Linked DNA regions of Homo sapiens. The protein of the gene in region 2 interacts with the protein of the main gene of each other region in a pairwise test. Each region holds a gene or a part of one and is shown on either strand. Other genes may lie near its edges.

Region 1 (3,500 bases), on a different chromosome or scaffold from region 2:
AGGTTTTAAGAACAAAAACGAGAAGCATCTGCATCGTGACTGCCTGTGAAGGCAGCATTCTCTCTACATACTTTATCTCATTCTGAACTCCTAAAAACCTTATAGGTCAGTAACTAAACTGACGTACTTTCCCAAAAGAGAATAAATGGTAAGCAGGAATCTGGAGGTTCAAACCAAGGATCAAACCAAAGGTTCCATGTCCCGTATTTTTGGCTATATACTTTGCTACTGCCAAGGTTTGGACGCAGGTGGAGTGAAAGATAGTCAAATTTAGCAGGAGGTAAGAAGCAGAGTATGCTAACCATTTGCTGAATACTTACTTTGTGCCAGGCAATACAATAAACACTTTACATTACGTATGTCTAATTCTCACAATGGCCCTGTGACACAGGTACAGTTATTCCCATTTTATAGAGAAAAAATGAGCAAGATGAGTCTGGCAGGCAGAGGAAGATAGATTTCAGTATGAATTGGAGGTGAGAAATAGAAGGTGTTAATTTAGGAATCAAGAAAGAAGAGGTAGAGAAAAGTCAAACAAGTAACTGACAAGACTTGGTGATCACTTAGATCTAAGTGAGGAAGGAAGTTACTCTTTATTGACATTTATTGATGAAGAAAACAGTTACCATTTATTGACACTCTGTGGTTTAAGGGAAGAGTTACAGGTGACTACGAGATTACATCTGAGAGTTCAGAATTCTAACAGGCACTGGAGACACAGAAAAATGAGGATGATGGGATTCCCTTTCAAACACATGGCACTCGCACATGGCACAGGGTAGAAGGCTTATGTAGAATGGCCCTGCATGCAAAATAATAGACTAGAATCTAACTACGTATCAGGGAGAGGGCTGTAGGATAAAATAAGGAGGGTGGGTGATCACTCCAAAGCAGCAGCAGAAAGCCTAAGACAGAGCCAAGGAAGAAACATACTTTTTGAGCCCAAGCAAGACAAAGAAGTCTGTTTTTAAAGAGACAGAACAAGACTCAGCAAAGTACTTCTTGACCTCTTAGCAGCCTTTAAAAGTTGTTCACAGTTGCCTGGAGACCTCCCACATACAAAGAGGAGTTGGCCAAGTACTTCCATTTAAGAGAAACAAATAAACTTGTTGTAATCAAATGCACCCTTAGGATTAAAAGTACCCTGTAGCCCTCTATGGAGAAAATAACAGAAGGCTAAAAGAATATGTGCATCAGAGAAAAATGGAAGACCCACTCTCAACTCTGACAGTATGCAGCAATAGTTAACTGGGACGTCCCTGAAAGCCAAGAAGTCACTGAACTTGGGACTTTTGTTTTATGCCACCAATCAGAATGCTACACAAAATTCTAGTCTCAGTCACTCCAAGCCAGGAGAATGGGTGTCCCTACCACTCTAAGCACTGACTACCGGAAGTCCCATCTCCTGGAACCTCTGTGTCATCCACATCTGTTTTGACTTCCGCAAATTTTATGTCTCTTTCTTTGCAAGGGCTAGTATGGGCATAACCAGGTTACCTGATGACTTCCCAAAAGACAACAAAGGCTGAATTAGGGCCCAGTAGCTTCTACTAAAACCCAGGAAATCACCTGGGGTGCTTTTGAAAAATACAGTTTCCCAGGTGCCTGAGATGCATCTCAGGAGACTTCCATGATTAGGCAAATATGACACACTGCACAAGATTCCTACTTAATAAATCCTCCGGGCACCACAAACTCCTACAGGTACTGTGATGACCCAGGTAATTCTTTAGGTCAACCTTCACATTCATGCCACCTCAGTCCTCTGGATAAAAACGTTCTTGCATCTTCTAAATCACCTAAAGGAGGCTCTGCCTGTCCTCCCACTCCAGGGAGAATCTATCATCCACCTGGGCACTAACTCACAAAAACAGAGCTCTCAGGAGTTACAGACCCAAGTTTAGAGCTATATTAAACTACACTATACCAAATAGAAGGGCTGCTATAAAGTGTTGGAGGTGGAAGAAAGGACATTTACTTTCCTATCATACACCTCGTGCAATTCCTCCATAGGCTTTCAACGCAATACAGAAAAAAAAAGTACATGTGTAATGTGTATATACATACACATGATCAAAATAGACTGTGGAAGACACAGAAGCTCCAAGACATGGGGCTTCTCAGTAGTACACACACTATCTTTTTTTAATAAGAGGACTGTAACTTTGCAAGGTTTACAGGGTGATCAATTAACTCAGCATATGTGCTCCTCACATTATGGAATAGAGCAGAGATTACATGAGGAAATCTGGAAAAATACTTTTAAATCTTTTTATGAGCAATAAGAAAAAATATATGTTAGACAAATACAAAAGAGAAACTTAAGAACTAAAAGACTCAAGCTTATATTTTATTCTTCTGAGATAAGGCAATGATTTTAGAAAATAATTTTCAAGTTTTATCCTTTCTCATCTTTACCCACTTAAAAAAAAAATGAAACCCCCTAGTTCTTAAGAGAAAGCCCTCTGCATGGGTAAGAAAGTAGTTATGAATATAATATCTCCATAAAGACTGATAGGACCAAGTCTACATTTGCAAAGCCAAGATAACAGATGCAACATAACTAAGTAACCAATTCGGTCCCTGGAGGCTTTCTAGAGGCCCACACTTACTACTGGAAAAGGAGTTCTCCTCCTAAGCTTTTGCTTTAAGAGAATGTTTCAGTTTCCTTCCAAAGCCGGCTGTGATAATTTAAACACCCACCCCTTCATACATGAACTTGATGTGATTTGAAAGAAAACTTTTACAAGATTTTCTGTTTTCATAAAATCTATAACCATTAATGATTCAACATGAAGGTCAAATAAGTCAAAAGAAAGCTTCTACCTGCCTCTCTCCAATCTGAAGTAAATATAAAATGGGTCCTTAACACGTTATATACAGGTAGCTTAGAGTATTGTAAATCCACTCAGCTGAAAACTACTGTTACCTGGGCTTTTCAAGATATCCTGGAACGACCACTCGGAGTCTGACTTTTCAATGAATTCCACAGTTAAGAGAAACCAGTTAACTGCATTCAAAAGCTAACTCGGAGGCCTTGCTGCCAATGTACAGCAACTTCCACTTCCACTTCCATCAGCTTAAATGTTCCTCCCCCTGCTCAGTCCTATAAAAAGAATCCCAATGATGTTAGGGGAAGAGGAATTAAACAATGCATTAATTTAAGACCATTTGTTGTTGTTATTCACTGATCTTTTAAACGGTAATCATTTGTTCCAAAACTTTTTTTAAAATTCACTTTGGCTCCTTACAGGGTAGCATCAGTCACCTGCCAGATTCCAACTGTGCTAAGTGAAGCAGGGAGCTAGTCTGGCCCACAAAACTACCGGTCAACTCCTGTTTCGCTATGGAAAACAAAATTTCCCTGACAGTCTCCAAGCTGGGATGTGAGGATTTTTTGATAGGACAGAGGGCTTTAATTGTCACTAGAGAAAAGAAGAACCATTCCTTCAAACCTGACTCAGGCCAGCTTGTTTTCTGGGCTCACCATTCTATCAAAA
Region 2 (3,500 bases):
GTCACCAGAGGATTAGGTTTGCAGCAGATGTGAGTTTTTAAAGTATGACTTCAGAAATGAAAAACCTTGGATATTTTTGAATGGCAGCGATTAGGTTGCAGACAGAGTATGATGGCATTCCCTTGTCCTGACCTCAGATGCAGCCCCTTAAGGAACCTATATGTATCTCCTAAAGGCCAGGGACACAGCCATGGCTGAGGCTATGTTGTAGATACTCCCTCAAGGGGGCTAGAAACCTAGGAGCACATATCGCATATGGAATAGAAATGTGGCAATGGGCAAGGGAGGGCTCTTCAGTGCCCATAGATGGGAGTTTTATCACCTTGTAGAGCAAAGCAGATTCCTGGATTACATATTTGGCATTGCCTCAAATTTGCTGAGAGTGGGGCATCAGGAAAGAGAAAGGGCCTAAACAGAGCTCCAGACCTACCGTCCCAGACCAGAAGGTGAATGAGGAGAGTCCACCTACCCCAGTGGCCACCCCAATTCTATAGCAAGGCAGTACCATAGTGAGGGATGGAGCAGAGGAAAGGGCTGTCTCTTTCCTTATTAGATCAAGGCTTGAATCTAGAATTGCCCATCTGAGCTAGGATGGGAATAACCTGTGGTTAGGCAGCTGGAGGAGGCAGATGGATATCCGATTTTTTGTTCCTTGATTCAAGCAATATCTAATTTTGGCTTTTCAAGACTAAAGAGCTTTATTGAAAAAACTTAACTTTTCCTGAGACCATCATGTAAGGACCACTTTCTTGGAGAATGGACTCTTCAGATCCCAGCATTAGTTTTGTATTTGGGGTCAGACCCAACTGCCCAAGTTCCAAGGCTCATGGTGGCCTGGGGTGTAGCCTTCGCAAGTGAGAGTAGCCCTAACAATGGATTCATGAGAAACATCACAGCTGGTCAAGAGGAGCTTTCTGGATAATGTTCAGCTTTGCTAACCAATGGCCCTCATGATGCAAGGGATTCCTTTATGAAAGACATTGGAGAAGGGGAGTGGTTGTTAGTATCAAGCCTGAGAAAGAAGTCACTTGGTCAGTTTTTTAGGAATTTACCTCCTCTTTATTCACAAGAGACCCACAAAGACCGAACACATAGTCTTCACAGCTTCAGAGCTTGATGAAGACCAATGCAATATGTTTCACAGCCACTCACTGCCACTCTCTGTGACCAGCTAGCAGGGATCTTGCTAAAAAGAGGGGTAGATTGGCCAGGTCAGGGGGATCCAGCTGTGACCTGAAGAACCCTGGAATATAGTTATGGTGCCTGCAGGTGCCAACAGAGTGAGAATGGCAGGGAAATGTGGGGGAACATGAGCAATCAGAGCTCCAGATAGCCCCCCAAAACCGCACGATTTTTATTCTTATACTGAAGTTCTACAGTAGATTTGGTTTGAATAAGGGAGTTTGTAGCAAAAATGTTATAGACATCAGCCTAAAATCCTTGGATTTTCTTCCCAGTGCTAATATTTTATGTCCTAAGATGCATCTGCACACCCCAGGATCTAAGCAAGAAGTCTGATTACCATCTATTCTTCAGGATCCAAACCCAATGCTATATGTTCCATGACACCTTCCCTGATTCCATCATCCCCACCTTCTGCTGAAGATAATTTATTTCATTGGTTGGTTTCTCTAGCTGGAAATAATTCCATTATTGGATGGATGCTTAGAGGGATGCATACCTGCATGGGATGATGAATAGATGGTTGATTTTCCTTCTATACCTTTCCTTCCTGAATTGGTGTACCTTTCATCCAACATTAAGACTTGCTTCTATTGTCAACTCTCTTGCCTCTCTTCTTTTCTTTCCTTTCTGTCACCTCAGCGTTTCCTAGTCCTGGAAAGTTTTAACAATGTCCTGTATGCTTGCTGTCTTCCAATGAAATGTATGGCTCTTTCTAGTGCATTAAAAAGTAATTCAGTTTAAGACTGGTCAAATCCTTTTTTGTCCCAGCACCTGGTCTGAGAATGATTCTGGTTTATAATCTTTTGGTGACCAGCTCTTCCCAGAAAGTGGTACTAATGAAACTGTTACTAAGAAAAGGAGGCCACACATTGTTGTTTCAGTTTTCGGTATCTATTTCTTGCATATTTCAAGTGTCATTCTGCTCACAACTAGATTACAAACACTCAGTCCAATCTTGTGAATTAAAAAAACAAACACGAGTTTGCCAGTCAGTACAAGTCTTGCCGCCACCCTACCTTACAAGGTCGGTAGGAAAATTGTGACGCGAGTTCCAAGTTTGATCACAGAATGGTCAGATTAATCATCAGAAGTAACCATGATCACTAACCCACCACAAGTTACAAGACTGGAGATGTGTGCCCTGCCATTTCACAAGAAATTCAGAACTCAGAGGACATACAAATTGTAATCTAAAATTAGCCGGCATAACCTTTGTCTTCAGAGGTAGATTGTGACAGAATGGGAAAATAATAATAGCAACTAATATTTATTGAGTGTTTACTTAATGCCAAGCACAGCAGAAAACCCCTACCACAATCCCATAAGGTAAGAGTCACACCTCTGGTGCATGCCTATAAAGAAATGGTGGCAGAAGGAGGAAAAAGGACTTACCAGTGTCACACAACCAGTAAGGCATAAACCTAGGACTCAAACTCAGATCTGCCTGCCCCAGAAGCTAAGCTTTAACTACTAAAGGCAAAGAAAGAACAGAAGTGTCACTCTCTAACTCAAAGTTAAACCCTACTCTCTACATCTTACTCTCCACACCCCACCTAAACACACACAAATACACACACACACACACACACACACACACACACACACACACAGAGAGAGAGAGAGAGAGAGATGAAGGAGCAGCCTGACTTTTCCAAAGTCTAGAAAGTTCAGAATCAAGGAAGTGCCACGGAGGCAGAAGCCTTGGCTCCCAGCAAAGGCTGCCTGCTACATCGGGCTCTCTACTAAAACTGCCCAGAAAAGAGTAGGGCTGGGTTATTTGGGGGCAAACTCTAGATCCTTCTCTGAGCCTTTTATTATAGCTAAAATATCTTCAAACTGTCCCGCAGAAGAGGCCCAGCAGCAAGCAGAGACCTTGTTTTCTTCAACAGGTAAGCTGAAGTAAATGTTAAACAAAATGGGTTCTCATGGTATGAACTACCATCTGCAGGGCTTTTTTTTGCCATTGGTCCCTTATCTGACATGGAAGGCCTGTGCTTTTACCAAGAATACTTCCTAAGCAATGTGAGAGAGACAGGCACTGTGGCAGGGAGACAGGACAGCTTAGCAGGCCAACACTTGAGGTCTGTTCACATGAATTTTGCTTTGTAGGAGAGTTACTAACTTAATCTTCATGATTCAGTTTCCTCATCTATAAAATGAACCTTACAACAGAATCTGCTTCATGGAGTTTTTATGAGGATTAAATGAGATAATGCACTCAAAGCATAGTGAAGACTGGCAGTTGTTACACTCAACATCCACCTTCCCTTCCTTTCTAACAGCCCCTGCATTATGGAGGGTGGCAATGTGCCCAG

What was found. Proteins that work in one complex are often made in the same cells at the same time.
Region 1: the proteins of POU2AF1 (region 2) and NAB1 interact in a two-hybrid assay, tested with the Homo sapiens proteins (one large-scale study listed by BioGRID and IntAct).

The regions. Positions count from the first base shown.
Region 1 is NC_000002.12:190,655,583-190,659,082, reverse strand, and holds part of NAB1 (NGFI-A-binding protein 1), read right to left. Parts: exon of another isoform or gene 3,107-3,500; 5' UTR 2,930-3,106; intron 1-2,929. UniProt on the Homo sapiens protein: Acts as a transcriptional repressor for zinc finger transcription factors EGR1 and EGR2.
Region 2 is NC_000011.10:111,369,276-111,372,775, forward strand, and holds part of POU2AF1 (POU domain class 2-associating factor 1), read right to left. Parts: intron 1-3,500. UniProt on the Homo sapiens protein: Transcriptional coactivator that specifically associates with either POU2F1/OCT1 or POU2F2/OCT2. It boosts the POU2F1/OCT1 mediated promoter activity and to a lesser extent, that of POU2F2/OCT2. It recognizes the POU domains of POU2F1/OCT1 and POU2F2/OCT2.